Regions from separate parts of the Homo sapiens genome. Here region 2 is linked to region 1. Evidence: fine-mapped expression QTL. A gene starts in region 1. The other region holds a variant in brackets. All regions are shown on one strand. Distances are between the middles of the regions.

Region 1 (11,584 bases):
AATCCTCAAAATAAATTATTCTAGTAAATCTCTCTTGACAGAAAACACTTGCATAAAAAACAGAAATAAACTAGAAAAAGAAATTCACAAGAGCACTCTACAATTACACTCACATGTTAAACTTGCAAACTAGCTACTAAAGCCACCAACCTTTCCTTTGCTCAGTTCATCAGCGTGTTCCTCAGATAAGGAGCACAACTCTACTAGTATTTCCTTCTGGCACCTATCTGAACACTCCCGCCCCTAATAATCTCAAGGAAATAGCCAAGAAGTAAAAAATGGTTACAGAGCCCTAATAAGGGAGATTCTTGCAAACAAGAGAGAGAAAAGAGATAAAGCAAACAGCTTAGATAAAATTAGAAGACTCTAACATTTGTACCTGGTAGAGAACTGCAATTTCTTCCAAGCGGCACATGTGGCTTTAATCTTTTTAAACTTGCTCTTATTTTATAGCAGCATATATTCTAGTAAAGAGAAAAAGAAACTTGGCATTAATTTTATTTTAGCATCACTTATTACAGTGTTAATATTGTAATTACGCTTTGTCAGAAGATAAAATATTTTGTATAGCTTTAAAGTAGTCCTAATTTATTAACTCCAATTCTTTTAAAAAGTGACAATCCAAATATATCCTAGGGGAAAGAATAAGGATAAAATTAATACTGATTTGCTATTTTGAGCTGACCTTAAAACAATGGTTTTCCTCAACCTGCAGCATTAGCATGGGCTGAGGGCTTGTTTGAAAAACATGCTTAGGCTCCAATCCAGACAAGAGAATCAGAAACTCTTGGGGATGGAGCCAAACAATCTGTTTAAACTAGCTCTCCAGTTGATTCTAATAGCTACAGATTGAGAACCACAACCCTAAAGTTCTGAAAGTCAGAAGCTGAGTCAGAAAGGTTAAATAAGGTATCTCACCCAGGATACACCTTGGTTTTCCTCTACATCTGCTGAAAGGTCTGTAGGGGGCAATGAACTCTAAAACCATTAGTTGTTTTCAGGATTTATTACAGTTACACATTAGAATCATCTGGAAAGCTTCTTGAAGACACGGGGGTGGGGAGAGAAAATGAGAACTGGAGGAACTGGGCAGTGGCATTTAAAAAAAATTCCCAGGGTGTCTCCAATGTAGCATTCAACTGAGAATCACTGAGTTAGAGCAGGTCTGCTTAAGGCCAAGCCTACCTCCTCTACCTTAGCTGCTTACCTAACCTTCTCATGTTCTCATGTAAAGGCTGAATATTCTCCACCTCAGTTTATGCCCAGACCACTAGATATACATTTAATAGCTGCCAATGTAGTTGGAATTGTTAGTGTATGTAATGATTTAGGGCCACCACAATCTGCTTTTTGTTTCATGAACTGCGTATCTGTGCGATCTATATTATTTCTACATTAGTTACCAAGTTTCTGGCAATAATAAGCTACTATCCTCAGAAAATAATTCCACTGCATAATGACTAGGATAAGACCCAGTGTCTATCACAGCGTGCATAGTCTGAAAGCGTCAGCAATAAAAGCACTGAAGAAAAACTGGGTAACTCCTTGGGCCACTTAATGAGATCACAAATGGAATACAGAAATATATCTTCTTCAAAATGCTGCTCAGGTGATTTTTAAAGTAGCAAAAAAAAATTGTAGATGAATGGTAAGGCTTCTTAGCAACAACAACAAAAAAACTGTAGACGAATGGTAAGGCTTCTTAAGGGTTACAGGTTCTCCCATACAGCAGTCACACCCTATCCACAGGGGTTATATTCCAAGACCCCCAGTGGATTCCTGAAACCTCAGATAGTACAGAACCTAATTACTATCAATCAGAACATGGTTCTGTTCATGTCTTCTGCCCACAAACTGAATACCTTTTCCATCTTAACTGAGCTCTTATCATGTTATGTGACCATAATTTTTGTAGTTTGAAGTGCAACAGTAAAACTAGCAAAAATGTCTTTTTCTTTCTTCACAATTTCATGGATAGAAGATTCATTCCTACCATAGATCTTAGCAACCTCAGCATATGATTTGTTTTTTTCCTTATTAAGCCAAGAATGTTCACCTTTTCACTTAAAGGGAGCACTTTATGGCTTCTCTTTGGCACATCCAAATTGCCAGCATCACTACTCTTGCGCTCTGGGACCGTGATTAAGTAAAATAAAGGTTACTTGAACACAAGCACTGCAGTATCACAACAGTGAATCTGATAACCCAGATGGCTACTGACTCATGGGTGGGGAGTGTATACAATGTGGATATGCTGGGCAAAGGAATGACTCACCTCCCAGGTGGGATTAAGTGGGATGGCATGAGATTTCATCACAGTACTCAGAATGGCACACAATTTAAAACTTATGAATTATTTCTGGAATTTCCCATTTAATTTTCAGACCACAGTTGACTCTGAGCAACTGAAACAGCTAAACAGCAAAACCATGAATAAGGGGAAACTATTGTACTCCCTGTTAAGTCACTGAAGATAAAAAGAAACAACCCAAACAAGCTTTAAAGTAATCTCTCACTTAGCTATAGATAAAAAGGGTATTATTATGTTTGAGATTTAATATCTTTAAGTATACTGAAGATGTGATAGTTTAGAAAATAATTTATAGTGTTTTGAAGAGGATTCAGGAGTCAGACCAGAGCTAAAGACTAAAACAATGTTCCTGAGACAAATATCAGACTGCCGAAGAAGCTGGCTTCCAACAGCTCTGCAGAAGACAGCCAAAAGTAGTTGTATCAACCATTGTATAATTATGTTGTACTTTGATATTAACAGAAACTTTATTTCATAAGAGTCTCAATCCATGGATACTTAATATTACAAAGCACATTATTTGTTAGTAGTTTAAAGATGTGCATTAAGTGATGACATTCTTAGATATAAAACCCTACCCCTCCTTCAAAAACAACTGGCATTTTAGTACTCCATGAGACCAGTATTTAGCTACAGCTGTTCTTTTACTTTTAAATTAAGGTAATTTCCTCTTATATTTCTTAATAAATTAAGGTAATTACTTTCAAATTAGTTTAGCTTGAAGATTTCCAAAGGTTATGACTCAACTAAATTTGGAATCAACAGCTGATGAGATATACTGGGCATTTTAGGCAGTAAAGGAGCTGAGGTTGTTAAAGGACACTTAATTTTATAAGAAATGCTTACATTAATATACACACTGGGTATTGTCTGATGACTCATTGCAAATATCCTCAAGTTGGTCAACATCTTGATCCTCCAAACTGTTACTGTCTGAAAAAATAAATATACAAAATCAAAAAACTAAACTTATGTATTACATGTCAGCAAGGCATATGTAAGTTAGACATATGTAATATGTATGGTAAAATGTATTACTTTTAAAAAGTTGGAACAATATTTTTAGCTACCAAAAATTCAATGCATCATTCAGAAAATGGAAAATTCTGATTAAATATGAGAAATATGGTTTTTAGGTTTAAAATGTCCCTTATTTGTCAATGTAATGTTTAAAGAAAGATATGGCGATACAGTAGAAATCAACTTATTGAAATTACAAAACATTGTATCAACCAAAATGCATTGTTATGTAAATGTATAGAATTAAGCATAAAAAGCTAAGCATCCACATATTAACTTGGTAATTTCTAATTGGCAGTAAAATTTATTGATTCATTTGTATACTCTGATTTTCCTACCATACCATGTAAAAACTAAATCATGTAAAAAATATATAAAAGCAAGTCCTCTTCCTCTCTGATTATAGAAACTAAGCATCTTTAGTTTAAAAACATTTGCTAAATATTCACTATGTTTCAAGTACAATATCAAAGCTATTAGAAATATAAGGACGCAGCTGAGACTGGGGATGCTGGGGAGACAGACAGACCATGTTAAACCAAGCTTGTCCAACCCGTGGCCTGCAGGCCACATGCGGCCCACGATATCTTTATATGCAGCCCAACATAAATTCGTAAACTTTCTTAAAATATTATGAGGTTTTTTTTATTTTTTTTTAGCTCATCAGCTATTGTTAGTTATCATTAGTGATTTTATGTGTGGCCAAAGACAATTCTTCCAGTGTGGCCCAGGGAAACCAAAAGATTAGACACCCCTGTGTTAAACCATTGTGATCCATGTTATTAAGATATGTGAAACCTCATTACTACTCCTAAGTCTGTTCTTTCTGGATCTTAGCTAAGAAACATTCACTACTCTTATTTAGAAAGTCATCTAATACTTACATTTGATTTCCTAAATATATTTGAATCTGTTCCCTTTGTTGTTTTTTTTTTTTTTTTTTTTTTTTTGAGACAGGGTCTTGCCCTGTCACCAAGCCTGGAGTGCAGTGGCTTGATCTCAGCTCCCTGCAACCTCTGCCTCCTGGGTTCAAGCGATTCTCCTGCCTCAGCCTCCCGAGTAGCTGGAACTACAGGCATGTGCCACCACACTTGGCTACTTTTTGTATTTTTAGTAGAGACGGGGTTTCGCCATGTTAGCCAGACTGGTCGTGAACTCCTGACCTCAAGTGATCTACCCACCTCGGCCTCCCAAAGTGCTGGGATTACAGGCGTGAGCCACCATGCCTGGCCTTGAATCCATTCCCTTTTCATTGGTAACGCCAAAGTTCAGGGCCTCATAGTCTCTCCACAGTTGTGACTGTAATAGACATTTTCCTCTTCTTTAACTCAGTGGTTGTCAATAAAAAGATAATTTGCACAACCCAGCCCTCCCCCGCCCAAGCCTATTCGTTCCCATTTATTCAACAAGAATTTACTGTGTGTCTGCCTACCCACTGCTTTCTAGATATCAGCGTTAATGCAGTGAACAAAAGACAACAATCTCTGCCCTCATACTGCCTCTACCGTAGTCAGGGGATACAGACAACAAACAAAAGTAACGAATACAATACATAGTCTCTCCCATGATGATAGGGTGCTGTAGAGAAGAATGAAGCAGGAAGGAGGAATTGGGACAGTTAGAACTGTAAGTAAAGAGATCAAGGAAGGCCTCATTCAAACAGTGACATTTAAGCAAAGACCTGAAGTAGATGAGGGAGGAAATTCGGGGGATTGAGGGACGGCGGGGAGGGGCGCATTAAAGGCAAAGAGATTATATAACGTACTGTACCTAAAATATACAAATGCTAGTTACTATTTCTGGTTTTAAAGAGAATGATGAGATCACCTTAGAAAATGGAGCCTTAAAAAACTGCTTCAAAGGCGGGGCTCGGTGGCTCACGCCTGTAATTCCAGCACTTTGGGAGGCCGAGGCAGGTGGATCACCTGAAGTCAGGAGTTCGAAACCAGCCCGACCAACATGGTGAAACCCCATCTCTACTAAAAATACAAAAATATTAGCTGGGTGTGGTGGCGAGCGCCTATAATTCCAGCTACTTGGGAGGCTGAACCTGGAGAATCGCTTGAACCCGGGAGGCAGAGGTTGCAGTGAGACGAGATGGCGCATTTGCACTCCAGCCTGTGCGACAAGATTGAAACTCCGTCTCAAAACAAAACAAAAACTGCCTCAAAGCCGGGCGCTGTGGCTCAAGCCTGTAATCCCAACACTTTGGGAGGCCGAGGCGGGTGGATCGCTCGTACCCGGGAGTTCGAGACCAGCCTGGGCAACACGGTGAAACCTCATCTCTACAAAAACTACAAAAATCAGCCAGGCTTCGTGGCGCGAGCCTGTAGCTCGCTACTTTTGAGGCTGAGGTCGGAGGATCGCTTGATCCCGGGAGGTCGAGGCTGCGGTGAGCCGAGCTCGTGCCCCTGCACTCCAGCCTGGGCGACTGGGCGAGATGCCGTCTCAAAATACCCATAAAAACAAAAACAAAAACAAAATACTGCCTCAAATACAAGCACTAAGAATTAATGAAAGTATTCTTTTGGTACAGTTCTTTTTGTTCATCAACTGAATCACGCTGCAAGCTGTGAAGTAATTAAGGGAACTTCTGCAACTGTGCAGTAAAAGGGTAAACCTGATAGTGTATTTAAGTAGACGTACTTTCTGGTAGTTAATTACTTCTTGACACTAGGGGGCCACTAAATACAAGTCCACTCAGCATTTGATTCGGTGCACCAAAATGCCTCAGAAATTTCTGGAATCAGTCCTGTACCTCCAAAAAACCAGAATGTTATCTTCTTCTTTTCTAACAGCTGCAAAGCCCCAGTAGTTCCATTTTTCTGTACACTAAGTTTTCATTCCTCAGTATCCTTCACAATCATGCACACATTACACAGAGTGACCGGAACAAAGATGAGTCGACTTCGCCGAATGATAGAGAAAAACTTCCATACTGAGCGAACACCGAGGGGAGTCCGGAGGCCCTGTTGTCCTCTTCCGTGGCTGGCTGTGTCCGTCGCAGCCTGAAAGGTCAGCGGTACCCAGCGCTGTGACAGGGTCACAGGCGCGCGATGTCTCACAGCTCGGAGCAGTACTCACCTGGCATTAGGCCGCGTGCCGCAGGCCAGCTCTCACCGCTGGGCTCTTGAAGCAGGAGGCGCGAGCCGCGCCAAAGTCTGCAACGGCCTCAAGTCTCGACGCCAGCCTAGGCAAAAGGCAATGTATCTAAACGAAAAGAAAATAGGCTTTCTCCGCTCTACCGCCTCGGGCAGCCACACCTCCACACTTCCGGCGGTGTACCGGCCAAATGCCGCCTGCCAGCAACTTCCGTCCTCCTAGCTAAAAGCGGAAAACAGAGGCTCGGAACCGCTGCGTGGTTCTTGCTCTTCACTCGGCCGTTTTAAAGGGTGACTCTTTCCTGTCCCGGCCTGCGTGGTGTGGGCTTGTGGGTCTTTGAGACCCGAAAATTGAGAGCGTTTTCGCACTCCAGCGGCTGCTCCTGGCGGCTCTGCGGCCGTCACCATGGTAAGGAGGATGCCTCGGACGCTCGCGACACACAGCGTCTGAGTTAGTGGGACCTGAGGACTCTGGGGCGCTGGGGTAGGGGGTGAGCGGTGGTAGGCGGAAATGAGAACTGCCAAGAGAAAAGGATGGTAGACCCGTGGGGTGGGCTCTGAGGAGTGGAAACAACTTCACATTCGAGACACAGACGGTATTTGCCAGAACACAAGCTTTGGAGCAAGATTTTACTCTGTCCTGTTTTCTTTTTTCTTTTTGATCCACCGCTAAGAGTCCTAAAAATTCCTGATTTCACCACAAGCGTGGTTATCAGCCCCAGAGCCTAATGGGAATATGGTTGTCCCTTGTACAGTCTTAGATGTCAGTCCCGCCCCCTTCATTTTACTGCTGAGGAAACTGAAGGCGTCCTTGCCAAAGACCAGACAGCTAATGAATTGCGAAGCCGGGCTTAACGGCCCAGATCTAACTGCCAGGTCCTTTCTCTTTGTGTTACGTCTCTATAATCTGCGTTTCTTTGCAAAATGGCATTCCATACACCCTTCATGTGATTGCTGCAAAGTTTATGTGATAGCAGTTGGTAGCAGCACACCTTGTTGGTTGTTACTTAACATTGCTCTCTGTGCTGGACTTGGCTTTGTATCATTTTTATTTTTGCAGCCTTAAAATACGAATAGACTCACGCCTGGCCGCGTGTTTAAAACGTGTCTAAAATGCAAAAAGCATCCCATACATTGCTGGTGAAAAGAAAAATAATGCACTTTTGGAAAACGGTCTGGCAGTAAACACACGTCCACATGAAGACTTGCATGCAGTTGTTTATTGCAGATTTATTCGTAATCACCCAAAACTGGGAACAACCCTGATACCTATCATCTGGTCAGCGGGTAAACAGTGGTGTATCCATACAATAGCATACTACTCAACAATAAAAAGGATTGAAGTTCCTATACCTGCAGCAAATTGGGTGAATCCCAAAAGCAAGAAACCAGATTCAAAAGGCTATGTACTACTGTTGATCCCTGTTTCATTCTGGGAAAGGCAAAACTGTAGGGATAGGTATCAAACTGAGGGTTGGGAAAGAGGATTGACTTAAAAGTTACATAGGGAATTTTAGGGGGAAATGGAAATTCTTTGTATTTTGATTGTGGTGGTTACAGAACTGTGTAGTTAGGAAAAACTTAGAACTGTATACCTAAAAAGGACAGGTTTTACTGTGTGTAAATTATGCTTCAATAAAACTGACTTAAATTTTTTAAATGTGAAATGAAGGTGTTATTAAAAAAGCAAATTATGTCAAGGAAAAAAGATACTGTAATCAGTTCATCCCTTTTGTGGTCCAGTAGATTTTGGACCATTCCCTAATGAGATTATTAGAGATGTAAGCCCTGATGCCTCATATCATTCAAGACCAAAATTTAACTTACATCATGTGAATAAACTTAATGGTGCAAGAATCATTTAAGTAAGTGAACATTTGGATGAAACAGGGTCTTTGTGCTGTGTAAAAGAAAGCATTTTAGAATAATTGTCAGTACTTTAAAAAATTAAAATAATATTTCTTCCATCATTATAGCCACAGAATGAATATATTGAATTACACCGTAAACGCTATGGATACCGTTTGGATTACCATGAGAAAAAGAGAAAGAAGGAAAGTCGAGAGGCTCATGAACGTTCAAAGAAGGCAAAGAAAATGATTGGTCTGAAGGCTAAGCTTTACCATAAACAGCGTCATGCTGAGAAAATACAAATGAAAAAGACGTAAGTGGTCTCATTTATTTGTCATAACAAGTTAACATCTTTTGAGTAATCATTATTAAAACAGATAATCTTGAATCTTTTTTCCTTCTTGGTAGTATCAAGATGCATGAAAAGAGAAACACCAAACAAAAGAATGATGAAAAGACACCACAGGGAGCAGTACCTGCCTATCTGCTGGACAGAGAGGGACAATCTCGAGCTAAAGTACTTTCCAATATGATTAAACAGAAAAGAAAAGAGAAGGCGGTAAGCAATAACAATTGAAGTCTTTGTTTTGTTTAGGAGAATTACTTAAATTCAAATTTGAGGTTCTTGTTTCTCGGTTTAATTTCAAACATGAAGTACAGCTATTATTCCCATTATTTAGATGTTGAAGTCTTTGTAAATTTAATAAAAAACTTGCTTTCTCATCATAAGGTTTTAAAATTTAAGTTATAAAAAAAATTTATTAGAATGCCATATGAAATTAAAAAGCTGGTAAGGAGTGAATTTCAAATTCAATATTTGTCTTCCTGTTTGAAAACCCACAGTGCTATGCAGTCATAAAGAAAAATACAAATGCTTCTTATTTGTGCTGCCCTGTAGTGCCAAACTTGGTTAAAAAGTAGAATGGTGGAAAACTCCCTGAGTTGTCACAAAAAATGTGGCTTTTTAAAACACCTGTAAATAGATTAGCAGAAATCCAGATAAAAGAATATGCAGTATTTATATTTAAAGAATTATTTTTACTGCCTTACACTATTTCAGTTTTTTCATAGAATTTGCACTCAAGGGAGGCATAAAACATCTGGTGAGGATTTTGTCTTGCTAGTGATCTACAGATCCATCTCGGGAAGAAATACAGAGACATATTAAGAGGTGGAAACACTCTTCCAGTATTATGCTATTAAACATTAGTAAACACATATACTGCTTATAGAAGTCACTATCGGCTGGGCACCGTGACTCACGCCTGTAATCCCAGCACTTTGGGAAGCCAAGGCAGGTGGATCACCTGAGGTCAGGAGTTCAAGACCAGCCTGACCAATGTGGTGAAACCCCACCTCTACTAAAAATACAAAAATTAGCTGGGTGTGGTGGTGTGTGTCTGTAGTCCCAGCTACTCGGGAGGCTAAGACAGGAGAATTGCTTGTACCCAGGAGGCGGAGGCTGCACAGTGAGCCAAGATTGTACCACTGCACTCCAGCCTGAGCAACAGAGCGAGACTCCATCTAAAAAAAAAAAAAAAAAAAACCACCACATTACAGGTGGTATTTTCTCACCCATAACACAGCATTAAGATTTTTAGCTTAAGCCAACCATTTATTTAACATACCCATGATATATAAACTTGTTCTGTTTAATTTGCAGCTTATGAGACAATACAGACCTCTAGAAGACGGTTGAGCCAAAAATGTGTTGATGGTCAAGCAAAAAAAATAGATCTATTACTTTGTACAACTAAAACATATTTGACTTATTCTCATTGTCCTTTAATAACAATATAAACTTTTAACTGTGGCATATTTTTAGGGAAAATGGGAAGTCCCTCTGCCTAAAGTACGTGCCCAGGGAGAAACAGAAGTATTAAAAGTTATTCGAACAGGAAAGAGAAAGAAGAAGGCATGGAAGAGAATGGTTACTAAAGTGTGCTTTGTTGGAGATGGCTTTACAAGAAAACCACCTAAATATGAAAGATTCATCAGGCCAATGGTAAGTCCTTGGAAGAGTGTAATGACCGAAATGTTAGTTGACTTTATTAAATCGGATAAAGAACATTATCATTTCCTGAAATTCTTTAAATTGATGTGGAACAGGTTGAAAGATATTTTTATGCAATTTTTGTTATTTTATTGACAGAAGTTATTTAGTACTTTTTCCACTAGTCAAAAATCTTTAGCCCAGTGCGGTGGCTCACACCTGTAATCCCAGCACTTTGGGAGGTTGAGGTGGGTGGATCACCTGAAGTTAGGAGTTCAAGACCAGCCTGGCCAATGTAGTGAAACCCTATCTGTACTAAAAAATACAAAAAATAAGCTGGGCGTGGTGGCGGGCGCCTGTAATCCCAGCTACTAGGGAGGCTGAGGCAGGAGAATCGCTTGAACCTGGGAGGCGGAGGTTGCAGTGAGCTGAGATCACGCCATTGCACTCCAGCCTGGGCAAGAAGAGCAAAAATCCGTCTCAAAAAAAAAAAAAATCTTTTCAGCTTCGTGAGAGATTTGAAAAAGTAGTATCATAAGACATTGTCAGTGAATTCTGACTTTTAAACATGACATATTAGAATCTTCATTTTCCACAGTCATATTTTCCTCATTAAACTAGTGATCTACAATATGCCTGATATTGTCTAGGTCTCAAAACACTTCTTGTCTTTGACAGCAGTTCGAAAACTTGAGTAGGACTGTTTTATAAGAGTCAATTCCAGTTTGATAAGGAAAGTATCTAAATGCTTTTGAAAATCATTGAAAAGCCGGGCGCGGTGGCTCACGCCTGTAATCCCAGCACTTTGGGAGGCCGATGCAGGCAGATCACGAGGTCAGGTGATCAAGACCATCCTGGCTAACACTGTGAAACCCCATCTCTACTAAAAAAAAAAAATACAAGAAATTAGCCGGGCATGGTGGCGGGCGCCTGTAGTCCCAGCTGCCTGGGAGGCTGAGGCAGGAGAATGGCGTGAATCTGGGAGGCAGAGCTTGCAGTGAGTGGAGATCATGCCACTGCACTCCAGCCTGGGGGACAGAGCAAGATTCTGTCTCAAAAAAAAAAAAAAAAGAAAAAAAGAAAAAGAAAATCTTTGAAAAAAGGAAGATAATTTAATATAGCTTAATTTCTGTTGAAGGCAGCAATAGTAATGTGACCCCAAACTTCCCCACCCCTGGGGAGAAACATAGTTGAAGATATATTTTTGCAAAATCCCTTCAAAGAGACTGAACTATTCTCCCAGTTAGATACACAGCCTCAAAAAAACAAAGTATCAGAGAGAGGAAAGTTGCAACATGCCATAATCCT
Region 2 (11,584 bases), 59 kb after region 1:
CTCAAAAGGCGAAACGGAGTTACCATATGACCCAGCAATTCCACAACTACATACACACTCCAGGAGACTTGAAGACATGTCCAAACAACAACTTGTATACAATTGTTCATATCAGCATTGTTCAAAATAGCAACAATGACAAAAAACAGAAACAACCCCAAACTGTTATTTATCAACTGATAACAAAACTGGTGTATCTATACAAGGTAATACTATTTGGTCATAAAAAGGAATAAGGTGCTGATACATGCTACCATATGAATAAAACTTAAAAATGTTATGCTAAACAAAAGACGCCAGACACAAAAAGTCACATATTATTCATATAAAATAGATTAGTGGTTGTTGAGGGCTGGGGCCTAGGAGTGAGGAGGAAATGGGGAGAGACTGCTAATGAACAGAGTTTCTTTAGCGGAGGGATGAAAATTATCTAAAATTAGCTGTGGTAATGGTTTCATAATTCTGTGAATGTATTTTTAAAAACTGAATTGTATCCTTTTTTTTTTTTTTTTTTTTGAGGCAGAGTCTCATTCTGTTGCCCAGGCTGGAGTGCACTGGGCCGTCTTGGCTCAATGCAACCTCCACCTCCTGGGTTCAAGCAATTCTCATGCCTCAGCCTCCCTAGTAGCTGGGATTACAGGTATGCAGCACCACACACAGTTAATTTTTTGTATTTTTAGTAGAGATGGGGTTTCACTGTGTTGGCCAGGCTGGCCTCAAACTCCTAACCTCAGGTGATCCACCCACCTCAGCCTCCCAAAGTGTTGGGATTACAGGCATTAGCCACCGCACCCAGCCTGAATTGTATATTTTAAATGGGTGAATTGTATGGTATATGAATATCTCAGGTAGTTGTTAAAAATGTAAAAACAAAATATCAACTTACAAGTGACTCCAATAAACCATTTATAACCAGATTTTGCAGACAGCCCCAAAACCTACTCTACCTAGTTTACCAATTTTTTAGTAAACCTCGCCCCTACTCGCCCACTCTAGGAACTCATGTTTGACTCTTCCTTCACAGCCCACGTACAATCCATCAGAAATCCTGCAGGAATCACTTCATAACTAATCTCAAACATGATCACTTCTTACCACCTCTACCCCATCTCCCTTGTCTAAGCTACTGTCACCTCTCACCAGGGCTTCTACAACAGCCTCTTAGCTAGCTGAACTCAACCCTGCCATCTCTGCAGCACCCAGAACCCCTGCACCCAGTTTCCCACAGAGCAGCCAGATTTGCCTTTTTAAAAGACAAACCAGATGTTACTCCTATACCCAAAACCCTTCAATAGTTTCCCATCACCTGCAGAAAAAAATTCAAATTCTTTCTTTGGCCTAAAAAACCTTTCAGGATACAGTCCCTGCCTCTCTCCTAATCCATATCAATCACTATACTCTGGCCACACTGCTCTTACTATTTCTGAAGTATCCCAAACTTGTTTCTGCCTCAGGGCTTCTGCATTTTCAGCTCTTTGCCTGAAAATTTCTTCTCCTGATCTCACTATTCCATCACTTCATTCAGAGAGACTTCCCCTAACTATTCCGTTTAAAATAGTACCTGCTGTCCCACACGTTCTATTCTTTTAATTTACTTTGGTTGTCTTCACATCATCTGACAGCATATCATCTACTTGTCCATTCATTGCTATGTCTCCTTCTAAAATCTAAGTTCTAAGAGGACAGAGCTTATAAAATATCTATGACTATCTCTCAATTTCTTCCTCTTGCTCTTTCTCACACTTCCCCCGCCTCCCTTTCCCTATCTATATGCACTTAAGATCAACTTTTTAATAAATGAATAAATTTCAGCGACACCATTCAGGTCTATGTATTGAATTCAAGAACAGATATTCTGCCACAACTGAGCAGCTGCTTCTTCTCATAGAATCACCATTCATTCTTTGTCCACCCAGGAATATGCCTTCTCTCCCCTTAAAACTTAACACCTCATGAAGCCATCAGTGTGTGACTGTCTCCATTGAAGACATACATAAAGTGAATTTCAGATTCAGATTATCAGATTCAGATTATTCAGAAATTCAGATTATCCTCAGATGAGCGAACCTGTCATATACCACTAGGTATTCTCATTACAGTCTTCATGCTCTATAAATTAGTTAAGGCAATGCTAGCTGCCGTAACAAACCAAACCTGGAATGTTTAACATAATAAAAGTTCCTTTTTTGTTCAAATTAACAGTTACACGTTCCTGGGAAGTGGATGGTTTCCTCCTCACAATCATGAAGGAACTGTTTCAGTTACCTACTGCTGCCTAAAAACCAGCCCAAAACATATTGGCTTAGAACTAAAATTTATTTCCTATTTATCACAACTCTCATAGGGCATCAGCTAGGGCACTGGGATGGCAGAAGATCCAATGGCCTCACTCCTACAGTGGGACAGTCTGTAGTGGCTGCAGGTGGAAGAAACAGCTGGTCTTGTCAGCCAGAGCCTCAGTTCTCTTCAATGGAGCTGCTGGGGTCTCTTCACCTCAGAGTAGTCTCCAGGTCGTTGTATTTCTTACATGGTGACTAGCTTCTAAGAGTGCCAAAGTGGAACCTGCCAGCCTTCTTAAGGCTGAGCACAGTGTTATGCATTCTCCTGGTTAAAGCAAGTTATAGGGCCAGCCCAGATTCAAACAGGCTACACAAGGATGTAAATACTGGGAAGTGTGGTCCACCAGGGCCACCAAGTTCCTTTTATCCTGTGGCTTCCTCATCCCTTACATCTTCAAAGTCCTCTGTATAGATGAGGAAAAGGAATGCATCTTAACCACTTTGACGCAAAGTCACAGGCATCATCTTTTTCATTATTTTGTAAAGAACTAGTCACACAGCCCCATGTAGTTGTAACAGTGACTGGAAAATAGAATCCCTGACTGGGCAGCTCTGGCCAATGACTAGAATATAGAAAATGAACCACAAATATTTTATGGACAGCTAGCAGCCTCAGCTAACTTTCCTCTTATCTCTCAGCAGATCAACATTTCCTTGTTAACTCTCAGGTCATCAGTGGTCACATCTCAGGAGACACTACCTTTTGCCAGAATACTCCCTCCAGTAATGTTTGGTTACTTTAGGCTGTTTTCAGTGTCATTTCCTCATACCAATATTCACAAATACACTCACTTTATACAACAGTTTTGACTGATCTCATCCACGCTGTAAAATTACTTTAAGTATTCTGGGGCCCACATAAATATCCATACCTCTTCCATGTGCTCCAACTTACATTTCTATGTTATGTCTACTTACATATGCCTTAGGGACACATATGCCCATGTCAAAATTGAACTAAAGTATTATCAAACTACTCCTCTTCTTCTATTCCCAATCTTAATTAACAGCCTCCCACCAATACCTAAGCACCCAAGCCAAAGCCATTCAGATTCATCACTAGTTCCTCCACTCCCCGCCTACACACTATGGAGTTACCACACTCTGTCCACCTGAAACTCTCCCTCAGATGTTCCCTTCTCCACTCCTACTGGTGCTTTCCTAGTTCTGGTCCTTCATTCACCTGAACTACTAAAACAGCTCTTTTAATTGACTTCCCTGACTTTAAAATACAATTTTCCAAGTGCTCCAAACAGTATGTCCCTAAAATATTTAATCATGTTACTTCTACATAAAATTATTTGATAGCTTCCTGGCCAATAAAATGCCACACTTCTTTGTAGGACAATTAAGATCCTTTGCAATGGGACCTCCATCTTCACTTCTCCTACTTGTTAGTCCCACCACCTTATTCAGGATGTAGTTCCAAATATGCCCTAAACTTTCATGACTCTCTGCCTTCTGCATATATTTATATTCCATTCATGTTTACCAAGAATGTTCTTTCCCTTCCCCCTTCTCTTACTGACAAACTACTTACCCTTCAAAACTACTTTTAAATATCACTTTCCCAGTCACACCTCCCTCCAGGCAAAGTTAACTACTTGCTTTCAAAGACTGCCATTGTTGATACCTCAAATGTATTACTTACAAAACTGAATTTTGATTATCTAATAATACAGCTTATCGACTATGATGTTGTGGGTTTTACTGTCTCATCCACTAGATTTTTGGTGCTTTGAGAACTGAACCCATGACAAATCATCTTTGTGTTTCCACTAAAGTCAACTCTATCTCTCGAATAAACAGAACCCTTATTGGCAAGCAAGTGGTTTTTCAGATAGCTAGAACTTCACCTCAACAAAGCAGCCATCTCGTTTCCCAATGATACATTTCAGGTAGCCACAGAGTAGTACGGGACTCTCACATGCCTTTGCACATTTCCCAAAGACAAGAATCACACCTAGACAGACTCAAGTCCTTAAAATATAATCACACTCTCCCAACAAAAAATTCAGCTGGGTTTCACTTTTAGCTATACTATCAATCCTTATAATTTTACATCACAATGTTTGTTATTCCTTAAAATAACCTTAAAAGGCCCAGAAATCTGAATTTTAGTGAACAGGAAGTGAGTAATCTGTCCAAAAAAGTAGGGAAGATCATGGATATAGCCCCTAGTAAAAGGTCTGGAAGCCACAAGGAAAGCTGACGAGTAAATGTGGACAAGAAAAAATGCTTCCATTACAAATCACCTCAAATGAAGATTACAAAAACCAGAAATACACTTCCTGGTATTGGTCACAAATCCCTTCAGTAGTGGGCTAAACTGACTTATAGTAGTTGTTGACTAGATTGTTCTTCCCCAAAATATTAAGTCTTCAAATTGGATCAAGGCAATTGACAGTTGAAGCCAAATAACAATGAGTACTTCAAAAATAGCGACTAATGATAGTGACCTCAATTGTGTTCTCTGAGCTTATCTACACTAAAATACGGTATGCTATTTACACAAATTTGCATCTTTATATACTTCTTGATATAGGCCAAAAGTCACAAAACTTCCACTGAATTAACCAGTGATTTGTTTTGTATTATTTTAGTAACTGTATGAGACTTTTTCATTAATCTTCTAATTAGCACAGCCCTTTAACAGATAGTCCTTATCATTCCAGGCTGAGAAGGATTTATAAAGTTCAGCTAGTTTTGTGGTAGATAGTGATTACACTTTGGACATGGCCTCATTTTTTTAAATGTATACTTCTTGTTTTTAATCAAAGTCATCCATAACATTGTTTAGAATACAATAGTCATATAAGACTTAAGAAAAAAAAAAAGCAGCTCTGTGACCACTTTCCTGATACACACACATACACACACACACACACACACATACACACACACAAACACACTTTCTACACCCCAAAAGCAACCATTTTGAAGTCATTTAGCTGATATTTTCGGTATTTACTTCTACTTCTCTAAGTAACTTACTATACCTCTTGATTTCTATTTCTTCATTTTTCCATTTTAGGCATAGATAGCTAGAACTTGGAAGGTGAGAATTTAGCTCTTAAATACATTCACACACCCCAATCTCAACTCCAACATAAACACACTTCCCATACAAAAAACCCCAACACCCCTAAATAGTAATTTGTGATTTGTTAGATCAATTTTCAGTATTTACATTATGACTATATAAATGCTTTTGACAACTGAGCCATATAGTGTACCATGAATGTTTATTTTTATCTTTATTCTTACACTTTTTGATTTCCCTTAATAATATTTATTACTATCTCTCTCATCCTCCAAAGTCTCCAGTAACTATGTAAATCTTATCCCAATAAATTCAAATACATCAGGTATTCTATGAACTCTATCTTCTTAAATCAACGTCCCAGAGCTTTGTGATCTGCTCCAATCTAGATCAGTCAATCTTTAGAAAAAGAAATGTCCAAAAGATCATTCTGCAATGATGGAAAAGTTCTGTATCTACTCTGTCCAATGCAGTAGCCACTAGTCACATGTGGCCATTGAGCTCTTAAAATGTGGCCAGCATGACTGAGAAACTGAATTTTAAAATTTAACTTCAACAGCCACATAAAGCTAGTGGTTTTAACAAAGAGCAGCTCCACAACTGACATAGCTGTGATGTTGGATCTCCTTTCTTTTCTCTCTTAGTTTCCTAATCCCATCTTTCCTTCTTGATTTTCTTTATCTTAGGAGAGCACAAACTCTACTCACTTCCAGAAAAGGGGTATATAAAAGGTAAATTGTTTTAAGACTGACAGTCTAGAAATTTCCTTCTTTCACTCTCACTCTTTATTAATTTGACGGGGCACAGAACACACTGGAAATCACTTTACCCTTGGTATCTTAAAGGCATTATTCCACTTCTAGTATTCATGTTGCTGTTGAGAACTCTAGTAACGTTTTGATTCTTGATCTTTTGTCTAAATCATTCTCTCACTTTATGGA[G/A]GCTTTCAAAATCTTTTCTCTATTCCAGATGCTCTGAAATTTCACAATAATCTTGGTATGAGTGTATCTTAATTCATTGTGATGGATGCTCAATGGGCCCTTTTAATCTGGAAATGTGTGTTCTACAGTTCTGAGAAATGTTAGTGAATTATTTTATTGGTGATTTTTTCTCCTCCAATTTGTTCTCTCCTCCTGAAACATGTATTATTTAAATAATCCCTCTAATTTTATCATCTCTTCCTATTTACCATCATTTAGGTTTGTTTTTTGTTGTTTCTGCACTCCTTTCTGATCAACCTCCTCCAACTCTATTGGATTTGTTTTAGTTTCTAAGAGCTCTGTGAACATTCTTGTTCTTATTTCATAAATGCAATGACTAACTTTTCCAAAAATTTTAAGGGCCACATTTTTTGCATTGTCTTCTCCTCCAAATCTCTTTTACTCTCTTTTGCTTTAATCACCATTTTTCACATCAGTGGCCTTCCTTACCTATGACTATCTGTTCATAATTAAGAATGAGATATTAAAAAGCTAATTAGAAGCTCTGTGTGTATGGTGGGGCTTGCTGGCAATGGACCTCACAGCAGGATGATATGGCTGGAGCCTTTCCTAGGGGAACCATTTATATTGGTATTTTTAGTTTCTTTTTTCTTTTGGCCTAGTCAAACTCCTCAAAGGAGACGTTTTTGCTCATGTAGCCATAAAATAATTTTGAAATACCATATATTCACACATCCTTGTGATATCTAAAAATTTTCATCTAAGTTTCAATCAATAATTACAGAAGATGTTATTTCTGACATATTGTTGACTTTTAAAAAACTATTTTAAAAACAATTGTAGACTTATAGAAAAGTCACAAAAACATTACAAAGAGCTCCCATATACCCTTCACCCTAATGTTAACATCCTATATAGCCAAAATACTATTATCAAAACCAGGAAATTAACATTGCTATAATACTGTTAGCTAAACTACAGACTTTATTCAAATTTCACACATTATTCCACTAATGTTCTTTTCTGTTTCAGAATCCAATCCAGAATTCCTTCCTGCATTTAGTTTAATATATCCCTAAACTCTGGTCTTCGATAATTCCTCCATCTCCCCTTGTCACTCATAACCTTGACACTATGGCTGATTGTCAGTTACTTTATAGAATAACTCTCCTAATTTGGCTTTGTCTAATGGTTTCTCATGAATGAACTGAGATCATAAATTTTGGGCAAAAATGCTACAGAATGATACTGTGCCCTTCTCAGTACATCATATATCATGGGATACATGATGTTGATATGTCTTATTACTAGTGATGTTAACCATAATCTGTTGGTTAACATGGTACCTGCCAGGTTTCTCTGTGTAAATTTACCATTTTTCCCTTTGCAGTTAATAAATAACATTGACTTAAAGAAAAACAAAACTATTACACCCTTCTTTTATATGTATCAAATGGACTCTAGAAACTATAATCAATCTGGTAACTGTTACCATCCATTGAACAAACTATTCCTTAACAGTTTTACACTGCTCCTTCTTCTCCTTGCACTAATATTTCTATGATATTTATTCCACAGAATGTTATCCTGATGTAATATTTTTATGCATGGAAGTTTACTGATTATCCAATCATTTTTCTCTACAAGAATATATTTGTATATAAATTCTAAAAATATCTTGTGATCCTAATGTTCTAAGTATTGATCCAAAAGAAATTTGGAATTATTATAATTATTATATTAGTATACAACAAATCAAAACACATATATCGGGAAAACTAATTACTAAGCAAAATAAAACCAAATATTATTTTAAATACAACTGTTAATGAAATAGATGGAGCTTATCTTTTTTTTTTTTTTTGAGATGGAGTGTCTGTCACCCAGGCTGGAGTGCAATGGTGCAATCTCGGTTCACTGCAACCTCCACCTCCCGGGTTAAAGCGATTCTCCCACCTCAGCCTCCTGAGTAGCTGGAATTACAGGAACCCGCCATCATGCCCGGCTAATTTTTGTATTTTTTTTTGTACAGACGGAGTTTCACCATGTCGTCTAGGCTCATCTTGAACTCCTGACCTCGGGTGATCTGCCCACCTTGGCCTCCCAAAGTGCTGGAATTACAGAAGGGAGCCACCATGCCTGGCCTGGAGTGTATCATTTTTTAATTAGTTTATGAGTTCATGAATTACTTACTACCAGAATGAGACAAAGTTCAGCATTAATCCTATTCCTATTTTTTATTTTTATAGATATAAGTGCTTAAGAACCTTGTTCAAATAAGAAGGAACCAGAAAACCCTTCGTTATAGCAATGTAAGTGTCCTTAGTTATGTGCCACATATCACACAGTGATCTATTATAAAAAATTATCTTTAATAATCTGGCATTATTAAACACAACTCAAATCCTCTTTCATTTTTGTTGAAAACAAATAGAAACCACCTGACTTACAAAAGAATATCATCTAATTATATCCAGTCACTTTTACACTACTACAAAACTATTTAGAGGCCTCTCCCTGCCTTCTTTTTTCTTTTTTTAAAGTGGGACTTCCAGACCTTTTTACAACTCCAGATTAGCAAGATAAAGGTTAGATGAAAGATATACCTTCATTTTGTAAAATGGGAGAAGGAAGATAATTTATTCCCTAACACAAATGTTGCCACCATACCTGAAAGTCTCCATGTGCCCCCAGGAGCAGGTCTTTTCCCAGAGCAAGGCTGGGGTAACTGTCCAGCTGTGCTGCATTAGGGAAGGAACTTTCAGCCAATCCTTTTCTAAGGCTCCACCTCCCAGAAGTAGCTAGTGTTATAATGACTGAACTTTTTAAAGGTTCTAAAATATAAATGTGGTGCTTCCTGCCTTGGGCAATGGCATCTTAGGATTCAGTTACTACATAATCTACCCTTTTCCCAGATTATAAAGTTTTGTTGCTGTTACACTCTCCTCTTACTCACTTCGTCATGTGGGATTTATGCTGTTTAAAAATGTCTTTGGTGTCATTCTGGTGGTGTTTGCAAGAGAGAGTAGAGGCTGAGGCACGTGTTCAACCCACCCTCTTTAACCAAAGCATTAGCACTATAGCCACACCCTGCCTACCACTAGCAATATAAACTCCTCAACATGCCATCCAAATTTTCACTACAAAATTCTGAGAAAAGTTTGCAAGAGTACATGTATGACTTATACAGACTTTGAATACAAAGTTCTACGCCTGAGGTCAATGAATTTTGAACGGTGTCCTGAATAAACTAAAAATATTACATAACTTAGTATAGCAATTATTGTAAAACTCAGTATAGAACAATTTTTTCTTCTTTTACGCTCCCTTCTGTGTCATAAAAAGGCTTTCTCTGCAGTTTTCATCCTTTTATAAACTATTTTTGCAGGTAAGTTTTTGTTACACATGAAGTACTCAAACGGAACGACTATAAAATATCTGATTTTGCAACCATGAACATTTTCTATTATCTTTCATCAAGTGCTTTCCTTTAAGTCTTTAGTGCCATGCCATAAGATAAAGGTATTTGTGGATTTAGCATCTATGGTTTCTTGTGAATGCAAGTCACCACGCAGGTCCAAGATAGGCAATAATTTGTCATTTTCCTATGACACAGATCTAATCTCTATTTGTTGCTAAGCCCGTGTTTTATGAATTAAGTTATATAAACACAGGTACAAAGAAAAGTAATAGCAAGATTTCCTTCCTTAAATAGAAAACTAAAATACTTGAGAGGCTGAGGCAGGTGGATCAATTGAGCCTAGGAGGTTGAGGTTGTAGTGAGCCATGATTGCGCAACTGCACTCCAGCCTGGGCAACAGAGCAAGACCCTAGCTCAAAAAAATAATTAAACGACCCTTTACAAGAAGCCCGACAGGCGTGGTGACTCACGCCTATAATCCCAGCACTTTGGGAGCCCAAGACAGGTGGATCATCTGAGGTCAGGAGATCGAGACCAGCTTGACCAACATGGTGAAACCCCATCTCTATGAAAAATACAAAATTAGCCGGGCGTAATGGCACGTGCCTGTAACCCCAGCTACTCAGAAGGCTGAGGCAAGAGAATCGCTTGAACCCAGGAGGCAGAGGTTGAAGTTAGCCGAGGTCGTGCCACTGTACTCCAGCCAGCCTGGTGACAGAGTGAGACTCCATCTCAAAAAAAAAGAAATATGGGGAATAAAATACAGATCACTTAATGATTTATTCCCTAAGGTGGTAGCATTTTGAATGTTCTACCAAAAGTAATTACTGTATCAACTTTGTTAATCTAATGGTCATTAGGAAAAAGTAAACAGCACAATATTAGAAAAATTAAATAATTCCATTTACCTAGATAAGAATCCCCCTCACACAACAACATAAAAAGAGAGGAAAGAGAAGCCCTTGATGATGGGGAACTTGCAACTTGACTTAAGATTACAGATTACTATAAAACTACCTATAATATAGGAAAAGAAAGAAGTAAACTATAACTCTTCAATGTCGAACATGATGTGCTCAATAAATACCTTTTATTACTAGTCATGATCTGTTGCTACAAGCCTAAAAAACTGACAAGGATAATGAAAACCAAACTTGATAAGTAGAGGGACTGTTAACTATGGATCCTGTGAAGATGTGCTCTAATCCCACTAAGCAATAATGACAACTACAGAAAAAAATACTAACTATCCCAGTGGATTGTGGGGAAGGTGCCAATAGACACAGGAGATTATGAGAAATACAATGCAACGGGTGTTTACTATTAGGAACTATCATTAAATAATTCCTAGCCTTAGAAATGTTATTCAAAAAAACTGCATATATCCCAGTTCACTATAGATCATGTACCTGTCACCATGACTATACATCACATATCTATTTTTTTTTAAACAGGGAATACATAATTTTTACAGTCTGTATTTAAGGAATAACAAGATAATGCCCAAACTTGAAACTATAATGTCTGAAAATTAACCTACTAAGAATAAATCATAAAAGCATTTGACCCAAAATATTGATATATAAATGAGTAGCTGAAGAGTTTTGCATTTTCATAATTTCGCCTATTGAGAAATAATCTTTATTCCTATATAGCATAATGTCTCAGGGTCATACACTGGGGCTTTGATGACAAAACACTACCTGCATTTACTCTTATTGAATCTTCTCTTCTCAAGACTCCAAGAAATAAATCTTCCTTTACTATCTATCATAGTCTTTCAACTTAACAACCTTTCTCTTAAATTCAACTTTTCTTTTGAAAGCCAGACCTGAGACCA

What was found.
Region 2: its variant is fine-mapped to the expression of NSA2 in whole blood (INTERVAL, PIP above 0.99).

What each region holds. Positions count from the first base shown.
Region 1 is chr5:74,760,523-74,772,106 of GRCh38, forward strand. It overlaps NSA2 (NSA2 ribosome biogenesis factor), which reads left to right and starts at 6,727. Exons shown (of 6, transcript NM_014886.6): 1 at 6,727-6,841; 2 at 8,409-8,596; 3 at 8,692-8,842; 4 at 10,109-10,288. The coding sequence starts at 6,839. It overlaps GFM2 (GTP dependent ribosome recycling factor mitochondrial 2), which reads right to left and starts at 6,595. Exons shown (of 21, transcript NM_032380.5): 1 at 6,416-6,595; 2 at 3,158-3,244; 3 at 380-464. The coding sequence starts at 3,220. RefSeq lists an enhancer at 6,308-6,747.
Region 2 is chr5:74,819,498-74,831,081 of GRCh38, forward strand. The region is part of intron 5 of FAM169A (family with sequence similarity 169 member A); the gene reads right to left. Among named protein-coding and RNA genes, the nearest start is that of FAM169A-AS1, 41 kb to the right of the region's middle. The variant G/A (reference allele first, on the strand shown) is at 6,324.